Homo sapiens: one gene and its partner. Each later gene encodes a partner of the first gene's protein in a complex. Each region holds a gene or a part of one and is shown in the gene's direction. Other genes may lie near its edges. The genes, in order: PSME4 and PSMB9.

Evidence for each region.
Region 2: PSME4 (region 1) and PSMB9 share a complex: the UniProt entries of both Homo sapiens proteins name them as parts of the spermatoproteasome.

Annotation. Positions count from the first base shown.
Region 1 is NC_000002.12:53,863,553-53,870,287, reverse strand, and holds the end of PSME4 (proteasome activator complex subunit 4), read left to right. Parts: intron 1-749; coding exon 750-912; intron 913-3,407; coding exon 3,408-3,541; intron 3,542-4,064; coding exon 4,065-4,199; 3' UTR 4,200-4,203; intron 4,204-4,714; 3' UTR 4,715-6,219; downstream 6,220-6,735. UniProt on the Homo sapiens protein: Associated component of the proteasome that specifically recognizes acetylated histones and promotes ATP- and ubiquitin-independent degradation of core histones during spermatogenesis and DNA damage response.
Region 2 is NC_000006.12:32,856,882-32,860,351, forward strand, and holds the end of PSMB9 (proteasome subunit beta type-9 precursor), read left to right. Parts: intron 1-381; coding exon 382-513; intron 514-1,123; coding exon 1,124-1,253; intron 1,254-1,482; coding exon 1,483-1,624; intron 1,625-2,523; coding exon 2,524-2,651; 3' UTR 2,652-2,970; downstream 2,971-3,470. UniProt on the Homo sapiens protein: The proteasome is a multicatalytic proteinase complex which is characterized by its ability to cleave peptides with Arg, Phe, Tyr, Leu, and Glu adjacent to the leaving group at neutral or slightly basic pH.

The DNA of each region.
Region 1 (6,735 bases):
GTAATGAACGCAGCAAAGAACATGTTACGTACTCGACAGACGATGATAAAATTATGAGAAACCTTTTGAAGGAATACAACAGAGCAAAACATCTGTTTTTTAAAATTATCATTGTGTATTATGAATATTAAACAAATGTTTGTGATTTATATGTGAAACAATGTCTTTTTACCGCTTTTTTGTTTTCCCAAAAGTTGAGTTACCATTCCAATTTGAAATGGACTGTGTACACGCTTCATTTAGTACTTTTGTAAACTGTGTTTGTGATCTGACAGCAGCCTGTGAAATTCATAAGAATCACATAGGATGTAAGTCTCCATGATGTATGCCAATTACAGAAATTAGGTTGGTCTGTGTCTTTGTTACTAACAAAAATAGCTATAGCAGTGGCCTTCAGAGATGTAGAGTCTGGAAAAACTTGATCTTAATGTCAGGTTCTGGCACTGCTTTTACAGTTATAGCCCTGATGAGAGCTATCAGTAGGGAAAATAATTTATGGAGAAATTTAATTTTGCTAAAAGAGATAAAAGTTTATGCTCATAACCCTAATGTAGTTTTTATCCATTATGAGGCCACAAACTCTTTGAGAATCTGCTGAAATCTCTATTAAGAAACTGCCAAAGAGCATACACAAAATTTGCATGCAATTTCAGGGAAGGTCTTCACCCCAGTTCCCACACTACCCCCTATCCTCCATTATTCCCTCAGACTTAGAATGTCAGTCCTAATAGAAATTATTATATCTACAGGTTCGAGAAATGGCTGCTACTACCTTAAGCGGTCTGCTACAGTGTAACTTTCTTACCATGGACAGTCCTATGCAGATTCATTTTGAGCAACTTTGCAAAACAAAACTACCTAAGAAAAGAAAGCGAGACCCTGGTTCTGTAGGAGATACCATTCCTTCTGCAGGTAACATTGCTGGTAGGAAACACCTGTATCCTATTGGGAATTAATGAGGGTTAACCAGGCTTACTCATATTTATTGAATAACTTGTATGTATGTGCCCAGGTCTATGCTAGGTATTGGGAAAAGTTTTCCCTACTTTTGAGGAGTTTTGCATATAGAAAGCAGGACTTGGAATGTAGAAAAGCTAAAATTGAGGTAGATAGAAAGGAACCTGTAGAACTGCTACCTAACAACTATTGTATTCAGTCTACCCTCCGCCCAGAATAGCTTCATAAAAAAGAGATATTCAGAATTAGTTATTTTGGAGGGTCTGAAAAACCTGTTTTGGAATTTAGAACTTAAATGTAGATGTACTAACAGAAAAAACTAAAGCAAGCCTTGTTTTTTATTTGGAGAGGGGATTATTCGGTCCTTCATTAGTCCTTTGGTGAGAGGGTGCGGAGTCATTGCAGGAGCTTCCAATCTAATTGAATATAGACACAAGATAAACACGAGAATAAGATCTGACTACTATGTCATGTTTAAAAAGAAATGTAAATGTGATTACAAAGATGCATCTTGCCATGTTAACTGTAATCATAATAGAAAATACATAAAAAGATTAATAGTAAGTAGGAATTTTATTGAATTTAGAGGAAGTGCTTAAATATAAAGCTTTTACTGCTGATTAGTGTCTTAATTATGTCATAAAGTTACCTAGTAACAGAATCCAATAAAATATCAATGTACATTCTAGTATCTTTGCTTTTTGGGATATATATATGTATGTATATATATTATATATATATTATAAATATATTTTATAATATATATTATATATATTATAAATATATTTATAATATATATTATATATATTATAAATATATTTTATAATATATATCATATATATATATATTATAAATATATTTTATAATATATATTTTTTGGAAACAGGATCTTCCACTGTCACCCAGGCTGGAGTGCAGTGGCATGATCTCAGCCCCCTGCAACCTCCACCTCCTGGGTTCAGGCGATTCTCATGCCCCTGTTAGCCGAGTAGCTAGGATTGCAGGCGCGCGCTACTACACCTGGCTAATTTTTTGTATTTTTAGTAGAGTTTCACCATGTTGATCAGGCTGGTCTTGAACTCCTGACCTCAAGTGATCCACCCACCTGGGCCTTCTAGAATACTGGGATTACAGACGTGAGCCACAGCACCTGGCCTGAGAACTCTGTTTTTTTAATGATAAAGCACCAAAGTATTTTTAGGTCTTTTGTTACACCAAATGATATTGTTCACAATTTTGACCAGTCCAAATTCTCTTTTCCTTACCTTCAACTCCCTATTTTCCATGTGTCACAAATACAAATGTAATATGCTTTAAAACATGTGAATACACACACCTTTATTGAGGAACTGAGAATTTGAAACCACTTACACCACTACAGAACTAACTTACACTACTACAGAAAGAATAGAGACTCTTTAGAATACAGACATGCTGCAATTCTCTGTTTTAAGAAATAGACATTCTTCATACATGATGTGTTTACTAATGAATTGATGTATTCTGGGTAGGGGCGTCACATCCAGAAAAAAAAAACCACGCTAATTTTGATTGGAGATTGTTTTAGAATCAGGGATTGTACTGGCCTAGGTACAATTATGCTGTCATTGATAAGCAACTATGGAAGTCTTTAAAAATCCTTTTTTTTTTTTTTTTTTTTTGAGGTAAGGTCTTCCTCTATCGCCCTCCTTGGAGTGCAGTGGTTTTGAATATGGCTCACTGCAGCCTTGACCTCCCAGGCTCAAGCGATCCTCCTGCCTCAGCCTCTTGTCTAGCTGGAACCACAGGCATGCACTGCCATGCCTAGCTTTTTTTTTTTTTTTTTTTTCCTTGAGACGGAGCCTCACTCTGTATCCCAGGCTGGAGTACAGTGGTGCGATCTTGGCTCACTGCAGCCTCTGCTTCCCTGGTCAAATGATTCTCATGCCTCAGCTTCTGGGTATCTGTGACTTCACATGCCATCACACCCAGCTAATTTTTGTATTTTTAGCAGAGACAGGGTTTCGCCACGTTGGCCAAGCTGTTCTTGAACTCCTGACCTCAGGTCATCCACCCGCCCTGGTCTCTCAGTGTGCTGGGATTATAGGCATGAACCACCATGCCTGGCCACCAGCTGATTTTTAAAAATTATTTTTGGAGAGACAGGTTCTCACTTTATTGCCCTGGCTGGTCTCAAATTCCTGGCCTCAAGTGATCCTCCTACCTTGGCCTCCCAAAGTGCTGGGATTACAGGTATGAGCCACTGTGCCCAGCTGACAAATTCTTAAATACAGAATTATTTTTAGTTTAGCCTCAAAATCAAGTATTTGATGTGTTTACATGTAGATTCATTTTAAATGCAGAAATTCACATATTGAAAACAACACAATTGAAAACTAATTTTATCTCACTGTAACAAGTGCATTAGAGACATATATATATTTGCACAAATGTTGCTATTCTCTTTGCAGAGTTGGTCAAACGCCATGCTGGGGTGCTAGGACTTGGTGCATGTGTTCTTTCTAGTCCTTACGATGTTCCCACCTGGATGCCCCAGCTCCTCATGAATCTCAGTGCACATCTAAATGATCCTCAGCCTATTGAGGTACAGTTCTTCCTTATTAGTTTGTACGTGTATTATCAGTGATGTTTTCTAAGAAACCATAATAATAATTTCCTATACACTCTGAACTAACTGCTTTCATAAAGCTGCTGCCTCTGCCAAGGCTTAGTCTGCTCACCAGTAATTATTAAAAAATTACAGAGACCTTGCTGCCATGGATATTTGAGATCTTTTGGTAGTGAGGAAATTATTGTAGCTTCTATCCCTCCCAGTCCAATGGAAGTAAAGTACTGTCAATATTGTTGTGATAAATTTTATGTTTCTATTTTTCTAGCACTGCAAAGTATTTTACTGGAAGCTAATATTAAATAGGAAATTATGATGGCATTTTTAGTAACTCAAAAGACCATTCACTTTGTCCTTCTCATTGGCTTTTTGGTTTTGTAGAACTTGGTATTGTGTGAGATCTGAAGTCTAGAGGGACGGTAATTTAACTAAAAGTATCCTACATATGATCCTGGTTGTCCAGAGAGGTTAAAACGTATGTGGGTTGTCTACTTTACAGATGACTGTAAAAAAAACCTTATCCAATTTCCGAAGGACTCACCATGACAACTGGCAGGAACATAAACAGCAATTCACTGATGACCAACTGCTTGTTCTCACCGATCTTCTTGTGTCACCATGCTATTATGCATAGAAAGGTAAGTCAGCAAAGTTCTGAATTTACATTGGTTTGGTGACTGAGAACTAGATATTTATTGTTTTTTTTCTTTTTGCTGACATTCTTAGATGTCAGTGTTTAGATAAAGTTGGATGGCGGGGATTGTTTGTTTTTAAACATGGCTTTTGCTACGGCCATTGGAAATGAGAATTTTGCTGTGCCTCCTTGCTTTAGGTTTAAAGCAGAGAAAATGTGTGACTGCTTTTGGACCTTTGTAGATGAGTGGTGTCAGCCTGGGAATAGTTAGATAAAGGAAAATACATCTTATTCTTGGTTGCCTCCTGGGTGGGGCTGGGACATTTTGTGTGGCCCTGAGGACTCTGGGTTCTAAAAGTTGTGAGAACTTGATCTGGATTCTTACACCCATTCTGTTAAAGAGGGAGTACCCAGAAGCCTTTCTACTGGAATAGGAAGAATAAAAATTTCATTTATTAGGCTTTTAGAGTTGGATGTCTTGTTACCTAATTGAAATTTTTTCCTCCCTGATACAGATGACTAGTCCTCACTTCAGGCTCTTTTCATCAAAAATTCCACACCCTCAGGTACCATCTGTGGTGGCTCTCTGCAAGTTTTAAAACTGCCTCTGCTGAGCTCTCATCATTTTGGTGGTTTCTGTGTTAGATCTCGTTAGTCTGCATTCCACAGCTTCTCAGTTGCCATTTGATTTCCCAACTTGTCCGGAAGTGTTTCCAGAATACTGATCACTTTTTTTTTTTGAGGCATCTGACAAAGTCACAAAGTCTCAGACTAGAAATAATTACCCAGTATGATCATGGCATCCAAGACCAGAGTCTCAGAACTCATTAAGAAACAGTTTACTTGGAATGGAGAATACCCATCTGTAATACAGGTCCTGTCATTTCATTCATCTCAAATTATTTTGAATTCTTCCCAAATGGCTGCTGGATTTAGGTGGTAATAGGGGCTGTGGGCCATAAATCTGAAGCCTTGAGAACCTTGGGTCTGGAGAGCCATGAAGAGGGAAGGAAAAGAGGGCAAGTCCTGAACCTAACCAATGACCTGATGGATTGCTCGACCAAGACACAGAAGTGAAGTCTGTGTCTGTGCACTTCCCACAGACTGGAGTTTTTGGTGCTGAATAGAGCCAGTTGCTAAAAAATTGGGGGTTTGGTGAAGAAATCTGATTGTTGTGTGTATTCAATGTGTGATTTTAAAAATAAACAGCAACAACAATAAAAACCCTGACTGGCTGTTTTTTCCCTGTATTCTTTACAACTATTTTTTGACCCTCTGAAAATTATTATACTTCACCTAAATGGAAGACTGCTGTGTTTGTGGAAATTTTGTAATTTTTTAATTTATTTTATTCTCTCTCCCTTTTTATTTTGCCTGCAGAATCGTTGAGAGACTAATAAGGCTTAATATTTAATTGATTTGTTTAATATGTTATATAAATGTAAAAGAGTGTATAAACTGTAGAGATAGCATTGGCAAGACATTGTACAGATGCAACCTTTTACACAACATCATTGTGTAATTTGTAAAGATTCACGTGTAGTTCTTTATTATAGTGATTTTGGGCTTTGTACCCACTGAATGCCATTTTTTGTGTTTTTAAATTATTTTCTTTATCTTGTTACAAAAACTGAGATGTGGGGTTTTTTTTTTTTCAGTTCACTTATCATTAGAATGTCTGAACTTTTATGTAACATTTTTGTGTGCATCTCTCAATGCTAACACCACATGTTTGCCTATGACAAGTTTATAGAGTGAAAGGTATCTTCTGGGTTGAAATAATTCACAAATTGGTGAATGTCATCTTGCAACACACCCTGTACAGTCTTCCTTAAAGGAACACTACAGTATATTTTTAGTATCTACATGCTGAATGACTGAATACAGACCTAAGCACAGCAGTGGTCCTGGTACAGTATTTAAGTGTCGGCATACACAGGCGTAATCCCTGTATAAAGTAGTGCCAAACTGATTTCAGTTGTGTAACTAGTTTAAAACCCAATAAATGGATTCTTTTTAACACCTGGCTTTTGTCTTCATTAAGAGGAGAAGACAGTTCTGTAGGCAGTGACTCCTGTGGATTTCCTTTTGCAGCCATAGATTTGTATCTGTAAATGTATGTCCTCTGACCAGTATAAATTATCTGGATCTGCCCTGTACAATACAGTAGCTACTAGCCATATCTGACTATTTATATTTAATTAAATAAAAAATGTATTCCCTCAGTCTCACCGGCATATTTTAAATACTCTTGAGCCACATGTGGCTAGTGGTTACCACACTGAATAATATCGATGAACTTTTCCATCATCACAGAAAGTTCACCTAGCACTGACCTAGGTGATTGATTGTTTTTGTGTGGAGGTGTGGGAGACAGAGTTTTGCTCTGTCATCCAGGCTGGAGTGCAATGGCACAATCTTGGCTTACTGCAACCTCTGCCTCCCATGTTCCCATGAGGAATGCTCATGCCTTAGCCTCCAGAATAGCTGGGACTATAGGCATGCACCACCACGCCCGGCTGATTTTTGTATTTTA
Region 2 (3,470 bases), on another chromosome or scaffold:
GACATTGAATGATCACCCTCAAAAATTCCTGAGTTCTGGTTGGGTGCAGTGGCTCACATCTATAATCTCAGCACTTTGGGATGCCGAGGTGGGCAGATATTTGAGGTCAGGAGTTTGAGACCAGCCTGGCCAACATGTTGGGACCTTGTCTCTACTGAAAATACAAACATTAGCTGGGCTTGGTGGTGGGTGCCTGTAATCCCAGCTATTCGGGAGGCTGAGGCAGGAGAATCACTTGAACCAGGGAGGCGAAGTTTGCAGTGAGCCCAAGATTGATCCACTGCACTCCAGCCTGGGTGACAGAGTGAGACTGTCTCAAAAAAAAAAAAAAAAAAAAAAACCTGAGTTTTAACTTGGTGACTGTTGACTCCCTCCTGACAGCGAGGCGGTGGTGAACCGAGTGTTTGACAAGCTGTCCCCGCTGCACGAGCGCATCTACTGTGCACTCTCTGGTTCAGCTGCTGATGCCCAAGCCGTGGCCGACATGGCCGCCTACCAGCTGGAGCTCCATGGGTATGAAGCTCTGGAGTTCTGACTCCCCACCCACTAGAGCTCCCCCAACCTGCATGAATCCCTGTACAGTGTGCTGTTCCAGGAGCTGGACACTGGGAAATGGAAAAGTCTTGTTTCGGCTCTTGCTGGCACTTGAATCTGTCAGTTTCTGCATCTGTAAAGTGGAGATAATATAGTACCTCATGAGACGGTTATTTTGAGAACCACATTCTATATGTGAACACAGTTTAAAAGCTGTAAATCACTATCCTGATATAAATAATCAGGAAGAAGGTGATATTGTGACCCACCATAATATCAGGCAGTTACCATACGAGAAATCAAGGTCGTTGGGACGGAAGTAACCTTATCTGCTTTTCCCCATAAGAGCAGGGTCCTTGCAGCCAAAAGAAAGTTATGTGGGTGGGGCTGAGCAAAAGAGTGAGCAATTGAAAGCTTCTTACCAGTTGGTGGTGTGGGACTCTGGTTCCCCTGTACATGTGGGAGGGAGGCTGCAGTTTGAGCTATTGCAGTTACAGTTTTCAGGGGTCGTTTAGCAGGGATGATGGTAACAGTATAGGAGAATGAGACTTAAAATTCTATCAACCTTTATTCCTAATATTTCCCTCAGGATAGAACTGGAGGAACCTCCACTTGTTTTGGCTGCTGCAAATGTGGTGAGAAATATCAGCTATAAATATCGAGAGGACTTGTCTGCACATCTCATGGTAGCTGGCTGGGACCAACGTGAAGGAGGTCAGGTGAGTTTCTCCCAAAGCACTCTCTCCTCTGGGCTTCCCCACTCTCCTGCAGAGGAAGATGGAAGTCCTATGTCATTCTAGCAATGAGTTCCAAGGACACTACCTCTGAAAGCATAGTACTTTGGGGATATGAGATACCAGGGCTTCATTGCAGGGTGCAGAGACCACTTAATGTCTCAGTGGGAAGGAAGGGCTTGATGATTCTTTAACCTGAGGATCCCTTTCCCAGGTATATGGAACCCTGGGAGGAATGCTGACTCGACAGCCTTTTGCCATTGGTGGCTCCGGCAGCACCTTTATCTATGGTTATGTGGATGCAGCATATAAGCCAGGCATGTCTCCCGAGGAGTGCAGGCGCTTCACCACAGACGGTAACCAGCCAAGTGGAAGGGTACCTGGGGAGGGCTTTGAAACATGGGAAGGAAGTAGATTATGAGGAACAGGAAGAGAAATACAGGGGTGGCCATTTAAGTTAATGCCGGGCCTGGTACACTTTTAAGAGTGAAAAGGGGCAGGACAAATGCAAAGCTCAATGGGGTTCTTGGGCAATACGGATAAACCAGGGCTGTTCTGAGTAAATCAAATGAGGATACACAGTCACTGTGAGAACCAGTGGTGTGCTAAGCACAGTGGCTCACACCTGTAATGCCAACAATTTGGGAGGCTGAGGCAGGAGGATTACTTGAGCCCAGGAGTTTGAGGCCAGCCTAGGCAAGATGGTGAAACCCTGTCTCCACAAAAAACAATAAAAAAAAGTAAAAAAAAAAATGAACTGGGCATAGTGGTGCACACCTGTAGTCCCAGCTACTCAGGAGGCTGAGGTGGAAAGATCATCTGAGCCGGGGAGATCAAGGCTGTAGTGAGCGGTGATTGCACCACTGCGCTGCAGCCTAGGTGACAGAGAGAGACCCTGTCTGGAGAAAAAAAAAAAAAAAAAGAACCAGTGGTGTGCTGAGGTGTGCTGAGGCTGGCTTGGGACCACTCATGAGAGCGGACTGTTAAATAGTCAAGGATTTGTGAACTGCTTAGCTATTTGTAACTTGCAATTCATCATAGCGGGAGCATTTACACCACGGACATCAGCAGATGCCACATATGGAAGCCTTTTTGTAAAAAAACTGATTTACCAGCACACCACTAAATATGCCTTCCTGGAAGATGAGTTTTGAGGTGAAAGTGGTAGTAGGCATATGGATGGAGGGGGAGTAAAAAGATTTTTGAAGCTAAGCCATCCTCTCTCTCCCTCTCTCCAACTTGAAACCCTCTGCAGCTATTGCTCTGGCCATGAGCCGGGATGGCTCAAGCGGGGGTGTCATCTACCTGGTCACTATTACAGCTGCCGGTGTGGACCATCGAGTCATCTTGGGCAATGAACTGCCAAAATTCTATGATGAGTGAACCTTCCCCAGACTTCTCTTTCTTATTTTGTAATAAACTCTCTAGGGCCAAAACCTGGTATGGTCATTGGGAAATGAGTGCTCAGGGAGATGGAGCTTAGGGGAGGTGGGTGCTTCCCTCCTAGATGTCAGCATACACTCTTTCTTCTTTTGTCCCAGGTCTAAAACATCTTTCCTAGAGAAAACAAAAGGGACTAAACTAGAAATATAAAGAGCCCTATACATGACAGGTGATCACGTACTGAATGATTTTGAAGTAGTACAAACAATAAAAATTCTCATTCCGCATCATCATGCGGTCCATGATGATGAGGCCGCAAGTGAGGTGATGGGACTCTTTCCTTTAAGGCTAAGACTGACAGATAGGCAAGACACCTACACACATGAGAATTAGCTAAGACTATCAGCAAACTCGCATGTAAAAGAATTCCTTTCATAATGCATTCATTCATATTAAAGGGCAATACATGAAAAATGCTTAAATATTTTGGGGCACTTGTGAATTTCAAAGAATAATGACAATAACCAAAAGAAGCTACATTTGTGGCATTGGCTAAATGTTTTATAAATTTTATCTCTTAAAATTCAAACCAAAAAACCCCCTGTATTCACACCTGTAATCCCAGCACTTTGGGAGGTCAAGGCGGGAGGATTGCTTGAGCCCAGGAGTTAGTGACCAGCCTGGGCAACATAGTGAGAACCCCATCTCTACAAAAAAATTTAAAAATTAGTCGGGTGCGGTGGTGCATGCCTGTAGTCCCAGCTGCCTGGGAGGCTGAGTGGGAGGATCGCTTAGGCCTGGGAGTTTGAGGCTACAGTG